Linked DNA regions of Homo sapiens. The protein of the gene in region 1 interacts with the protein of each later gene in a pairwise test. Each region holds a gene or a part of one and is shown on either strand. Other genes may lie near its edges.

What was found.
Region 2: the proteins of PLXNA2 (region 1) and CEMIP interact in a two-hybrid assay, tested with the Homo sapiens proteins (one study listed by BioGRID and IntAct).

The regions. Positions count from the first base shown.
Region 1 is NC_000001.11:208,038,351-208,045,618, forward strand, and holds part of PLXNA2 (plexin-A2 precursor), read right to left. Parts: intron 6,861-7,268; coding exon 6,717-6,860; intron 6,393-6,716; coding exon 6,158-6,392; intron 4,854-6,157; coding exon 4,711-4,853; intron 4,017-4,710; coding exon 3,748-4,016; intron 1,709-3,747; coding exon 1,642-1,708; intron 1,418-1,641; coding exon 1,271-1,417; intron 635-1,270; coding exon 475-634; intron 125-474; coding exon 21-124; intron 1-20. UniProt on the Homo sapiens protein: Coreceptor for SEMA3A and SEMA6A. Necessary for signaling by SEMA6A and class 3 semaphorins and subsequent remodeling of the cytoskeleton. Plays a role in axon guidance, invasive growth and cell migration.
Region 2 is NC_000015.10:80,775,012-80,782,426, forward strand, and holds the start of CEMIP (cell migration-inducing and hyaluronan-binding protein precursor), read left to right. Parts: upstream 1-4,358; 5' UTR 4,359-4,603; exon of another isoform or gene 4,604-7,113; intron 7,114-7,415. UniProt on the Homo sapiens protein: Mediates depolymerization of hyaluronic acid (HA) via the cell membrane-associated clathrin-coated pit endocytic pathway. Binds to hyaluronic acid.

The DNA.
Region 1 (7,268 bases):
GAAAAGACACCCCCTCTCACCTGATAATGCATCAGTGTGTTGAGCCGCTTCCAGTCACCCTCAATCTTGGTGGTGATGTCCTCATCTTGCAGCACGACCCGGGCGATCCGGCCTTGGCGCCACTCTGGGTGGAGGGGGTGGTGCAGGGAGCGGCGTGAGAGGGATGAGGGCTGTGAGCCAGTGTCTCCCGATTGCACCTTCTCTAGGGACCTGGCAACCCGGCCCCCTCAAGCTGGTACCAATAACAGAGGCTAGAGACATCTAGGGCTCCATGGGCCCAGGCAGCAGAGGAAACACGTAGACCTCCCCAGAGACAGCCACATCTGAACAGGCAGCGCTCAAAGCGGGAAGCATTTCACACGGGCCTCAGCTGGCCAGGACACAGTCATGCCCCTGCAAGGGTTGTGTGCATGGCAGCTTCCCTTCCTTCACCTCTCAACCCCTGCCCTCACACTCTGAGTCCAGGTTTCCTACCCAAGTCCATGTCCACTGCCCTCGGCCGCTGGGAATAGGGCACATTCTTATACACGGCATCAAGAATCTTCTCCTTGACCTGTGTGATGGTGTCACAGTTTAACACCTTCACTGGGATCTCTGGACTGTTCTCGTTGTCAGGGTTGACGCAGTTCAGGATCTACAAGTAGGGGACAGAGGGTGAGCAGGACAGGAGTTGAAGGAGTAGTTTGAGGGAGAGGGTCAGGACCTCAGAATCTTCTTTTTCCAAAGTTCACCCTCCTTATAGGGGAAATAAGGGTACTTTTCTGGTCTGTGACTCAGTTTCCCTCACCTTCATAACATCTGCCAAATGAGAGTCTGAGTCATTGTGTCCAATTCTTCTTTCTCAAAGCACCAGGACTCTACTTTCTAGCTCCTGGACAGCTTAGGGGAGACTATAGTCCTGGAATGAGGCACCCTCAGTGTTTAGAGATGGCTCTACATGTATCAGAGACTAGTCATGCACTTCCCCAAAGCCTCTATGTTAGGAACCAACATACATCTTTCTCATAATACCAATTACCCAATAACTAATGATGGGTGAACTTTTTTCTCCCCCAATATTATCTAGGATAAACCGAGGCATAGAGTGCTTGGGATGGGTGGGCGGGCCTGCCACCTTGCTCTTGGTACACTTAGTTGTCCTTTGGGCTCACCCCAGACCAGCCTCCCATCCTCTTTATTGACCCCCTAGACTGCTTTTATGGACAGAAGGCAGAGCAAGGGGCAGAAGTAGAAGATACACAGGCGGGCCCGGAGCTTCCGGCTTCCTCACCAGGGTCTTGTACTCGATCTGCTGCCGGATGAGCTTGTCCTCGCTCAGGGAGTAGCGGGCCTCGCCCGTGATGGCATCAATGGGGCCCTTCTCCATCTGCTGCTTGATGGCACAGTATAGCATGAAGAGTGGCTCCCCTGCGCACTCCTGTGGGCACAGACAGGGCAGGAGGTGTGGGCACGGCCTCCTCAGGTTTGTACGTTTTCCCTTTCCTCTCTCGGAGCGAGGCCAGTGGAAGGAAGGGCTTTAGCACAGCCAGTCCAGGTTCCTGCTCCCGAGGGAGGGGGTCCCCATGCAGCCCTGTGGCCAGGATCTAAGCAGCAGTGCCATCCTGCCCTGGACGCTAGGCCCCGTCTCACTCCCTTTCTCACCTTTAGGAACTTGTGCAGGAGGAAGGCGAACCAATTGGTCAGCATCTTTTCAGCCACAGACTCTGTCCTGGGGAAGGGACAAAGGGTAAGGGGCAGTCCTTCACAGAGGGGTCTCCGTGGTGGGGCCTGGGCTTGCCATGAGGTCTCCCAAGAGAACAATGGAGCATGGGAGAACGCAGGGCGGGAGTCAGGACACCTGGGTCCCAGCCCAGCTCACCCAGTAACTAGACTGTGACCTGGGGGTAGGGGTGGCTTCTTTCTGGGCCTCAATTTCCTATGAAAATGGAGAGGTTGGCCTTTTCAGCCCTGATGGTCCGTGGTGCTCTGAACTTTGGCTGCATCTGAGACAGGGTCTGTGGATAAAGGCACCTCACTATCCCACAGGGCTATAAAGAACCGGTTCTCCCAACTCACTTCTGGCCTCAGGGTGATAACTAGAGAGTTTCCCAGTCCCTCTGGGCTTTCTTGCATGTGTGAGTACCCTGTTTTGCCTATCTGGAAGGTGCCTGGTCCCTTCCCCTCCAAAAACACTCAAGGTTAGACTTCCTTGGGTTCAAATCCTGATTCTGCCATACGTTGGCTGTGTGACCTTGGGCAAGTCATTTAACCTCTCTGGTTTCAGTATTCCTATCACTAAATGGAGACAGTCATAATAACATCCAACCCCAGTGGTTGTTGTCAGGGTTGAATGAGTTAATATTTGTAAAGTGCTAAGAAAAGTGCCTGGCACCTGCTAAGCACTATCCATTAGCTGTCATTATTGCTGTCATGTGGGGTCTTGGATCCCAGCCCTCAGGTAGAGAGCAGTGCTTAAGTGTTTTGCCAACAGGGGATTTGCTCATGCAAGGGCTGGCCCCCCTCCCCTTCCCATCCCAGGGCTACAGATCTGGGGATTTGGGAAGGAACAAAGCGGCTGTGACAGACCCTCAGTGAAGGGGATGCCGGAGGGGTATTTTAACTCCCTGCACGTGGTGCAAATTATATCCTCTGGTTGCAGTAAATCCCAGGCATTTGCCAGGGCTGCTCAGCAATCTGGGCCTGGGAGAGAGTGACAATGGCAGAAAAAATTGTAGCTTTCTCCCGTGGCTCCTCCCAGCACCCTCTCCCTGCATTGTGCTTGAGATTAGCTCTAATTTAAATACAACAGTTCTTAATGAGAGTTTCTAATGCTCAGATTGGCAGGATGGGGGCTCAGTACTCATAAAGCAAAGCCATTCTTCCTCCCTCCTCACCCCACGTGGGGCCTGGAAGCCTGAGACCTTGCTAGAGGAAGGCTAAAGAGGAGGGGTGGTGAACGGAGGTGCAGCCCTCCAGCCCCTGCTGCCCAGAGGACTCCAAAGCTGTGCCCGGCTCCCCACGGCCTCTAGAGAGGGTGGGCTCAGGGGATACTGAGGTCTCCAACCCTCTCCCCTGCCAGGAAAAATGCAGTGGGCATGTGTAGTGGATGCTGTGATTCAGATCCAGGAAGCTGAGCTCAGAAGGCACGGCCTTCTAGGCTGTCCAAATCCCTAGCTCAGTGCTGCGCAATAGAACCTTCTGCGATAATGGGAATGTTCTCTATCTGTGCGGTCCCGTATGGTGGCCACTAGCTGCAATGTGGCAACCAAGCACTTAGAAAGCGGCTAGGTGCTAGGGCAATGGAGGAGCTGGATTTTACATTCTATTTCATTTTAATTTGTAGCAGCTACCTGTGGCTAGGGGCCGCTGTGCCGGACAGCACAGCTCTAGAGGCACCGGGAGGAAGAGACTGTGAGATAGGAATTATTTTTCTCATTTTGTCTAGGAGGAAACTAAACAACAGAGTGGTTACAACACTGGCCAGAAATCACAGAGCTAGCAGGAGGCAGAGCTGGGACTCCAGCTGAGATCCGAGCAAGGGTCTGAGCTCATCCATCACACCTGGGTGACTTCAGACTCTGTAGTCTCCCTGGGCTGAGGGAAAGTCAGATTCTGCCCTGCAGAGACGTGAGGACACAGGCTGCTCTGAATGGGTGCCCCTTCTGGGGAGTGGGCCTTCTCATGCTGCTTGTGGGGCCTGCTATAATGAGGTGCTCTGTCCAGGTTCAGACTCCTGCCACCCTCTCCACCCACTGCTGCGGGCCAGACCTCCGGAGTAGCAGCTTGGGGTGGTTCTTGTTCTCCAGGTTCTTATCGATGAGGTCAGAGAGCAGCTGCTTGAGGACATCAGTGGCATATTCCAGGCGGCCCTGCAGGCCGGTCATGATGAGCGAAGCCACGTTGCCCCGGTCGCGCATGGAGAAACTGCGCTGCAGCTCCAGGGTGCGGATGAAGGTCAGCAGGAACACCTTGTTGTTGATGAGCTGGGCAAAGAGCTTCAGGGCCTTCTCCACGTGCTGCTGCCCGTTTCCTTGTACCTGGGGTGGGGTGTGGTGGAGGCGACGCCCTCAGAGGACAGGCATCGGGCCTCCTACCTGAGGGTCTCACTGAGGGCCTGCTGGCGATGACACTAGCTGTAGGACCCTATGTTTGAGGCCTATAACCAACCCCACCCCATTCCACTCACCCGTGATGATGTAGGAACAGCTGGCTCTAAGGTCGACAGTCTGCTCTGACCTTGCACTGGGCCGGGGAGGCTGGGCTCCATGCGGAGCTCTCAGAGGGGAGGCTGCCTGATTTTCCCAAGGATAGAATAGGAGATGCCCCCTCAAACTTCTTCAGTTTACTAGTCTCCCCTTAATCTCCTCTGCCTGATTTATTATCTTTAGTAAAACAAACCAACAAATGAACAAACAAACCTCATAGAATCCTGTGTCTTTCTTTAAGCCATCTTAAATCCATTTTAGAATGAGGCAGGATCTTAGTTAATTAGTTCAGTCATTAATTAAAAAATGACAAACAATGAGCTTTACCCTGGAACCATCCCAAGGAGCCTGGGTGCCCCCTCAGCCGTAACCTTCCTGATAGCTCTGTTGCTGAGATGCTGTTACAAACTACTGACCCCTCTTCCCTGCTAACCTTACTCAGTACTGCTGAGTCTCATCTGGATTTCCTAGGATACCCTGGGCCTGCATCCCTGCTGGGTGGCTGGGCCCAGGAGGCAGGCATTACCTCCAGCTCCCGCAGGACGGGGTGGTCCTCGATGCCCGGGAACAGGACTCGCATAGCGTAGGTACGATAGTCCAGGTAAGGGATTCCTGAGCGGTCCAGGTCACTGGTCAACTCATTGATATCCGTCTGGAGCTCAGCAAAAGCTATGAGAATAAGCAGACGGAGAGGCTCGTGGGGAAGCCCCAGTCGGGGGAGGAGAAAGAGGGAGAAGAAGTTTGCAAAGGACGAGGGGAGGACCTTTTGTAGAGACTCTGAGGATTACGGGAGTGTGTCTCCAGAGGGCGGGGCTACTCCCAGCTGTTTTTAGGTGGTGGGGAAATGGGTGATTTTTATGTTATTTTCTCCTCTATACTTATCTATAATTTCAAATTTTCTCTTTACATATTACAAGTGTAGTTTCAACAAGGAAAAAAAAGTATCATGATTGGGCCGTTTAGTAAAGATCACGGAGATGCTGGAGGCAGGTGAGAGACCATGGCTGAGGGGGTCCAGCAAAGACCAGAACAGGCAAAGTGCTGCCCTTTTCTAATCAAGGTAATAAATCAAGATGCAAAAGCCTAGGGGAGGTCTGGTCATGAGACGCTCAGCTGAGAGCCGAGTTTGGGAAGGCAAGGGCTTCAGAAGCCTCACCTTGGTGGTGGCACACCTGTCTTCCTGGCTCCTTCCTCTGCCAAACTCACCAGCCCTGTTGCCAGGAGGAACCTTGGCTCCACATGTCCTATTTCCCAGCCCAGCTCTTCCCTGTCATCCAGCAGAGGGCTTGTTTCTGATCTTGACATTTGCAGCAAAAGGAGAAATGTTTTCATTCCTAATTGAGCTGTTTACCCAGAGAGCCTGCCAGGTCCTCAGCCTGAGAGGACGCCAGGTACACTCGTCACCTCGAGGCTGTGGTTGCGTGGGACATGGGAGAAAACACAATCTGCACTCCCACACACGTCCACAGCCAAGGACACCAGCAAGTGGCGGCCTTCAGAGCGCTCAGCCTGCAGCACTGATGGAAAACAAACCCTGGGGGAGATGAGGCAGGTGCTTGTCTGCCTTTGCTGCCGCTGCTCCCACGTGCTGCGAAGACAGTGTGCAGAAAAACAAGAGCTGGACACTCCCATGGGGGATCTAGAGTCTGGGGCTGTGGAGCCTGGGGACTCTGACTGTGGGGACATTGAGGCCCTGAGAGGGAGAAAGTGTTTGCCAGATTGTGGGATGGGTCAGGGCAAAGAAGGGACTAGAACAATGCAATTGGACCTGGGTCCTCATGCAGTGGGCATTCTTCATTGGACATCTCTGACCCTATAAGCAAAAGAAGTTCTGGGAAAACAGGGGTGAAAGTGGAATGCAGAGGCATGGCTGGCAGCGATGGGAGTAAAGATAGGAGTTGTCTGCAGGGAGAAGGGCAATAAGGCAGGTGGAGAAAGAGGGACCCAGCAAATGAGGGTGTGCTTCCACTAACCTTCCTTGCACTCCAAGGCCACACGGGACTCCAGATTGTCCATCTGCATTTGCAGCCGCTTGAGAGTGAGGTCATTTTCTCGAGACTTGCGCTTGTAGGCAATGAGGACGATGATGACGATGATGAGGAGGAGGCTGCCGCCGGCCGCGATGCTGACGATGGCTGGCAGGGTCAGCAAGCTGTCTGAGATGACACTCACCGAGCCAGGCGAGAACACCATCCCGCCCACGTGAACCTGTGCATTGTACACATACAGACGCACATGGATGCACACAGGTGTAGAGCCCGGGCATGCCAGCAGATCCTTACAGTGCGAGGAAGGACATGACAGACCACAACCACACAGTGCAGCTCTAGATAAAAAGCAATTTCCTGCCTCGGCATCTGCCTTTCTTTTCTTGTGTTCTCAGCTTATACCCAATTTGATGTAGGACCCAGAGATGAGGAGATATGGAGGGGGTGAGTCAGGCAACGAGACAGAAGAGAGCCTTTCCTTAGGACAGATCACACATGCACCACGAGGCGGGAAGGAGGCATTACAGACGCAGGGCTCACTCACCATGACCTTGTGCTGCCCGGTGAGGTTGGGAGGCTCGCAGAGAAGCTGGGTCTCAGATACGGTGACAGCACAAGGGGTCTCTCCGATGAGCACAGTGTAGTTGAGTTTGGCCCCTCCAGAGGCAGGAGGGCAGAGGTTTTTGCCCTGTAGAGAATAGCAGTCTTTATAGGCATAATTGACACATGCACGCACAAGTTAATTGCCTACTTAAAAAGAGATTAAGGAGACGGGGAAGGGCAGCAGTGCAAAAACCAGGAAATGACTCCTTGGCAAGTTTTTGTGGAGGGGACTTCTAACAGCCATGATCTAGAGAGAAAGAGAGAAAACAGACGCAGGAGAGAATGAAAATGAAGAAGAGAGTGGGAAAAATGCAGAGGAGACAAAACACTAAACAAGAGAAAATTTTGGGGGAGGATGCATGGGATTTCACGAAAGTAGTGGGGCAACAAATCACTTGGATGGACAGTGCCAGGGACTGTGACCTCTGGAAATGTGTGTGTGGGCTCCTGTGGCCACAGAGTGGACAGAAAAGGAAACAGTTACTCCCAACTC
Region 2 (7,415 bases), on another chromosome or scaffold:
TTTTTTATTTTACTATATAAAATTTACCCTATTCCTGGCCAGGCACAGTGGCTCACGCCTGTAATCCCAGCACTTTGGGAGGCCAAGGTGGACAGATCACTTGAGGTCAGGAGTTCGAGACCAGCCTGGCCAACACGGTGAAACCCCATCTCTACTAAAAATACAAAAATTAGCTGGGTGTGGTGGCGCACGACTACAGTTCCAGCTACTCCAGAGGCTGAGGCAGGAGAATCACTTCAACCCAGGAGGCGGAGGTTGCAGTGAGCTGAGTTGGCACCACCACACTCCAGCCACAGCGACAGAGTGAGACTCCGTCTCAAAAAAAAGAATTCTATTCAGCTTTTAAACAGCTGTATAATACTCCATCATATAGATGCAACACTATTTAATTAGCCCTACTACTGGGCACTTAGGCTAGTTTGTTGTTGTTGTTGTTGTTTTACTATTAAAAATAGGGCTACAGTGTATAACCTGGTGCTATTTGTTTCACACATTATAGCTGTAAGATAAATTCCTGGAATTGCTGAGTCAAACATTATGTATATTTTCATAAATCTTGTCAAACTGCCCTCCCAAGTTGTACCAACGTAAGTTTTCATCAGTGATGTATGCAAAGGTTGATTCTCCACCCTTACTGGCCTCCTCCGCAGCAGAGGTAGGGTCAAACTTTTGGATTTTTGCCAGCCTGACAGGTATTTCGGCCTAGTATTAATTTGTATTTCTTCATTTATGTGTTAAGTTGAGCATCTTTTCAAATGTTTGTAAACTACTTGGGTCTCCTTTTCCATCGCATGTATGTTATCTTTATAGGAAATGCTCATTCGTGTATTCATTCATTGACGGTGGACTACACGTGGACTTCATGTTGGCCACTATAGGAGCTACTACAGGGTAGATGGGTAAACTTGAGAGACACAGCCCTTGCCCTCTCAGAACATGCAATCTGATGGAAGAGAATAATTTTGAGCTAGCTATTGAAGATTTATGGAACACTTACATACATTTATCTATTTGTGAAACTATATATGTAACTTATACATGGAAAAATGCTTGGCTATATACTGAAATTAACAGAAATAATTTTTGAGTGGAAGTGATTTTTTTTTCTTTCCTTTGTGTTTTTCTGTATTTTTCAAGCTTTTGTAATGTATACACATTATGTTTGATGTTAGGTAATTTCTTTTCTCTTTGTTCATTGTTTAAGTTTTTCAAGGTTGGTTGGTTGGTTGATTTTTTTACAGGGAACATGTGTGATTTTTTGCAATTAGAACAAAAGGAAATAAATAAGAAGAAGACATCATACATACACCGTTTACCTATGTTTTAGACATAAATAAAACACAGGAAAGAAGAGTTCTTTCTCTAGAGTGACGGTGAGTTTGAAGAGGAAGATATAGAAATCCACTTTCAGAGCTGGGATTTGCTGTCATAAGTTCCAGCACAGGCCTTCACTCACCAGAAAAGCTGAGGACATGTCTCTCTTCAGCTGGGCAGCCTCTTCTGTGTCCAACAAGACAGGAATCAACAGCTCTGAGAGCTGGAAATCTGGCCTCCGGATCCAGGCCTGGGAATTTCCCTTTTCTGATGCCAGCTTCAGGCCCAGTGTCTAAGGGCGACCCCTGTTGGTGGGACTTAAGTATGCTCATTATTCGTGAGCTGCTTCTCCAAGGGTGGAGATGCCCAATTCAGTTTTAATTTTTTGTGGGTCTGCTGGAAACCTTGAGGCCCACAGCCCACTCACACACTACCCTAACTACATCCTGCTTCCCTTTTCTCCTTGTCCTCCACCCGTCTACTCCAGGTTTTCCTGGACAACTGGGTCTGGAGGCTTGGCGTATGGAGCCACAGGTGTGGCCAACCTTTTAAACTGTAATAAGGCAGGCTGCTGTAGGGTCAGGTGCTGTCTTTGCTGATCAGCAGGTGGAGTGTGGAGGCCCTTGTTTTAGGGAACAGATGTGGCATCCTGTCAGCAGACTGAGGATGCCAGACTTGGGCAGCTTGAGGCAACAGTGAGCAGGCAGGCCAATCTACTGCACAAGGATGTAGCTGAGGGGGCTGCATCCCACCTGAGGAAGGTGGGTTGGAGGCAAATGCAAAGAATGGAGGAAGGGCAGGCTTTCTGGGTGGCAGGTCACACCATTGATGGGCGTTTCCCTTCTCTCTGGAGACTCTCTGCTGGGAGATTTCGGCAAGAATCAGAAAACTAACACAGCCTTTCTTGACCAGCTCTTTCCTGTCTCTGCATTTATAAGAGCAAGACAATGGATTGCGAAAGTGTGGGCAGTAAATCCACCAGTGTCATGTTGCTATATTTATCCATAAAGAATTACGCGGCACGCCCCGTTCATCACTGAGTGCTGAATGGCAGTGCTGAATGGAGAACTGGCTGGAGAATCTGGTTTTAGACATTCGGAGCCTGTTTGTAATTCATCAGCACTGCTCTTTTCCCCTGGGCATTGGTCTGTGATAAAGAAAACTGGATACCAGAGGAATGTGCTGGGCATTTCAGTGCTTTGAGAAAACATAGCCAAGCACTTCTCAGGGCCCATCCCTAGACAGGACCCTGCCTTTACCACTTCATCTCCCAGATGGCTGTGGAGCCAGCCCCTCACCAGAGAGCTACCTGGCTCCACTCAGGCCTCAAATCTACTGTCTGTTGATGGAAAATCCTGCATGTCGTGCCAAGCCAGGCTGATTCAAGGTCGACCTTTCTCCATTTGGGCCAAATGCCCAGCACCCCCAAACCCCTAACACACAACTCTTTGTGGGTCTGGTTTCTGGGAGCTCCTTAAGGAAGAAAAACATAAACAGGAATCATGGTGAGGACTGGGGAGAGGGGCCCTGGGTCGGGGGGGCTCCATTTTATTCGGCTGGAAAGAAAAGGTTGGGGAGGAGGGCTTGCCATTGGATCCAGTTCATTACTTCCCAATAAATCAAAGAAGGGCTGAGAATCCTGACCACCACCCCCAGTAAGGATCAAGTTCCGCTTTCTGGAAGAGGCCTAGAGGTGGATTGCAGGACTTCCCAGTTTAACCAGGTGACAAAGGCTTCTGCTTCAGCCCAGATGTGATCACAGACTTCCACAGCTTCTGCCGACCACAGCCTGGCCTTAAAGTCCAGACCTAGAGTCCCGGAGCTAGTGTGTACTACACAGAATGGAGACCTTGCCTGAGGAGCTGGTTCTCAGAGAACACTGGCAGGAAGGAAGAAAGAAATGTATATTCTAGGAGGCCTCTGCTAACCAGGAAAGGGGGCTGAGTCACACTCTGAAAGGTGGAAGAGGCAGAGAGCAGGTATCAACGCCCTCATTTTACAGATTAAAACAAAACAAGAAAAACAAACACTCCTCACCTCCCTGCAAAAAAACCACCCTGAGGCTCAGACAGGGGAAGTAGCTGGCCCTGGTCACACAGTAGGTTAGCGGCAGAGTTGAGAGGAGACTCCATATGCCCTAGGGATGTGTTGTGATGAACTTTTCCTACTGGTACTGTTTCCTCCCGCGAGGGAATGTCTAGACCAGCCGCACCTTCTTGCTTTGACCCTTCAGAACTTTGGCCTGTCCAGTTAAAGAGGCACAGAGCCCTCCTACCCACAGGGAATGTTTCTAACTTACCAAGCACCTATTATGTGCTTAGAACTTGGACTTTCCTGATCTCATTTAAGCCTCACCATTCTAGTGAGGAAGCATCACAGAACCCATTTTCCTGATGAGGAAACTGAGACTGGGAGGGGTTAAGATCCTGTACACAGTTGTAACTGGCATGTCTGAATCCAGTTTCAAACCAAGGTGCCTTTCAGTGAACACCCAAGCATCTTCCTCTCGGATTAACTGCTAGGCCAATACCAAAATCTCTTTCTCGGGCTACTCTTTTGCTGCTGAGTTAAAAAGAGATCCTGAGACTTAGCCTGGGACCCCGACTCGCGGCGATTCTGTGGCAGGCGCAGACCTTTTCTCCTGTCCTCCACTGCCTCTTTGCCTCGGAGGGCGCCCCGGGGCGCGAGCGGGGCACGGGCGACCCTGGCTCCTTGGAGGCCCGGGGACTTGCTCTCCGCGGTCCGCCGCGGCCGCTCCACCGAGTCCTGGCCTCCAGCGCCCTCACCTGGCTGCTGCGGGCGGGACTCTGCGCACCCGGGCTCCGCGGGCTCAGGTCTGCGTCTCCCAGAGCCGCCGCCAGAGCCCGCCCCGGTCCGGCCCGGGCACAGGGCCCCCGCCCCACTTGGGCAAGGCGGGGGCGCGTGGAGGGAAGTTTCATCGGGGGGCGAGGGAGGGAGCTTCGGTGCCGCGCGGGCGTCAGGGGCTCCTCGGGGGAGGAGTCAGTAAAAGTGGCTATAAAAGCGGCCTCTCGGCTGAGGGCCGGGGAGCTAGCGCTCAAGCAGAGCCCAGCGCGGTGCTATCGGACAGAGCCTGGCGAGCGCAAGCGGCGCGGGGAGCCAGCGGGGCTGAGCGCGGCCAGGGTCTGAACCCAGATTTCCCAGACTAGCTACCACTCCGCTTGCCCACGCCCCGGGAGCTCGCGGCGCCTGGCGGTCAGCGACCAGACGTCCGGGGCCGCTGCGCTCCTGGCCCGCGAGGCGTGACACTGTCTCGGCTACAGACCCAGAGGTAAGAGGGCCTGGCTGGGGGCGTCAGGGATGAGCTGACGGCCCATGCCACGGAAGAGAGGTAAGAAGTGGGGGCCCGCGCCTCCACCCGGCACAGGGTAAACGTTACCCGCCTCAGTTTCTGTTTGTCTGTCCACCCTGTGCTGTGCAGTCTACCTCTATCTGTCTGTTTGTCCATGCGTCTGTTGATGGGCACACGCTCTTGGCACTGTCCTCTGTGGGATTTCTCTGAGATCTTGTGATGCTTTACAAGCTGCAGGTGCCGGGGGGCGCTGGAGTCCCCAGAGGGCATCCAGAGGGGGCAGACTCCTGCTTTCCGTAGATTTTCCCCCTTCTGAATGGCACCGGGGGCTTGCGCCCGGGAGAGTGTCTCGCCGAGGAGGGAGTACCACAAGGGTCAGGTCTCGGTGTCCTGCCGACTGGGAGCCAGCTCACGCCGAGCTCTAGCGGGCGTGCGCCTAGCAACAGGTCTGCGCCCTGCTGCTCCTGCCTCAGCACGCTCTTCCTCCCAGTTTCCCTCGCCTCCCAGTGCCTCCGGGACAGCGCTAGGCACCCAGCGACGCGCTGGCGCGGGGCCGAGCTGAGGCAATTGCAATGTTAGATGAACCCGGGGGGCTCTGCTGATGTTTAGACTGAGACTCCAAACGTGGCATCGCTGGAAGAAGGTCTGGTGGTCCCTGGCAAAGGACGTCGGCTCCAAGAAAGGTCGCGTTAGGTTGTGAGGAAAGGCAGAGAGTCCTGGCAGAACGCTGGCCAGGTCTCCAGCTCGCCGCTCTGGGAACGAAGGCCAGTGACATTCTGGAATGGACCCCAAGGGATGCGTGTGCTCATGAGAGAGGAGCGCTGTGCGCCCTGGGTCCTCAGCCGCAGACACTCTCTGCGACAGCCGCTGTTCCCCAAGGGTCGGACGCTACGGCAGTCCCAGGAGTTCCGCCAGCTGCCGGGTTTGAGGTCCTGAGTCCTTCTCCAAGCAGCCAACGCTACCCACAGGTGAGAGCTCCCTTTAAAAACTAATCTTCTGATGTGTGAGCCAGTGCCTGGCTGCAGCCCCATACCAGGGACGGTGAGCCGGGGAGCGCGTCTCTCCATCCCTGCGGTCTGGAAAGTGATCCAGGGCGCGCCCGAGGGCGGGGAGCCGGCGGCTCTGCGTGCCCAGGCGCGACGCCACCATGGACAGCTCCCAGCCACTTCCTCCACTCGGGGTCTGTGGCCCTGGGTCTCCGGGGAAGTCGTGCGCTTTCTTCCCAGACCCAAGGCGTTGGGGCGCTGGGAAAGAGGAAAGGGACTGAGAGTCCGCTGGGGCCCTCGGTATTACCACTCAGGAGGCAGCCCAGCCCTCAGGAGTCTGTGGTTTGTGACCAGGTCCTAGCTGAGCCGGCAGTTCTGCAGGACCTCCCGGGGGCACTCTGTGGTTCTCTGGCTTTTCTATGACACCACGGAGACCCCTCAGAGCTGTTAGGAAAGTATGGCCCCTGAGAATCCGACCCAGGCAGTGAGATAATGCCAGATACAATTACGCCAGACATAATTAGGGATCCAGCTCAAACTGTTTTCTGTGTAGGGCACAAGTTCATGTGTTCCATCAAATTAAATTATTTATTTAGTACATATGGGATTGGGAGGATATATTAGTTTTACGATTAATGATAGAATGGAGAAGAAATCAAATAGAGCAAATTTATAGAGAAGGCAATCGGATGCATTTGCAAAAGCAACTATGCGGTTTTCTGATCCTAATAGTTTTGTTCAAAGCCCATGACTTTCTTAAAGCAATTTCCAAAGGCTCCTTTTTAGCCCAGTAGATGACTTTTCAAGTTGGTCACTTGAAACAGGGTGGAAAAACCTGTAGGGTTTAATCTGTGCACCAAATTAAAGATCTCCCTTCTCTGGTAAGAAACGACACTGGATGGGGCTCTTTTTGTCATTTCCACCCATACTGAAGTGTGTATCTTCCTTTATTTTAAAATTACAAGAAACGCAGGTCTGCTTTTTTTGTGTGTGACTGACAAAGGCCGACGGAGAGTAAAAACAAGTAAACACCTCTTATAAAAAAAAATTTTGAGACAGCATCTGTGACTTTGGGAAAGTTGCTCAAATGTTTTGTGCCTGTTTGCTGATATGTAAACTGGGAATAACGCAATGCCATCTTGCAGGGTTGCTATGAGAATTACAGTAATTGGTACAATGTAAAGCATTTAATCCAGTGCTGAGCATAGAGAAATCGTTTTAAATGGTAGCAATTACAGGTATATTTTAAAGACAGTTGTGCATTTCTTTTGAATTATGTTCACCATCCCTTTGCCCTCTCTCTTAACCTAGTAACTGTTTGATAGGGACTCCATCTTCACTTTATTTTTGCATCCGAGAACTTGTTGATGGAATTGATGAAAATGCTGGAGTTGATCACAATGAAAAAAAAATTCTTATTTAAAGACAAATGGAAGAACTTTTATGTGATAAAAATCGGTCAACTGTTTTCCCCTACCTACACTACTTGGAGGAAAGATAAAAGTAAGTTGTTTTCAAAATACTCTCACAGCCCTCTGGTTCAGATGATCAATTTTTCCTGATTGTTCTCTCACAAGAATGCAAGGTCTTCTAAGTGGCTTTGTTGTCTTTCTGCAAGTGAAGTACTCTTGGGTATTGATGGAGAGTGGCCTCTAAGGCCTGGTTTCTAGATCACTCCAGGATGAAGTAGGGGTTAGCTTTATGGAGTGGAACTTTGCCCAGGGGTTCACTGAGTGGTCATTGCCAAGCAGGAAGCACCTTACTTCATGCTTGAGCCTTGCTTAGGTGTGAGATTCTGACCAAGA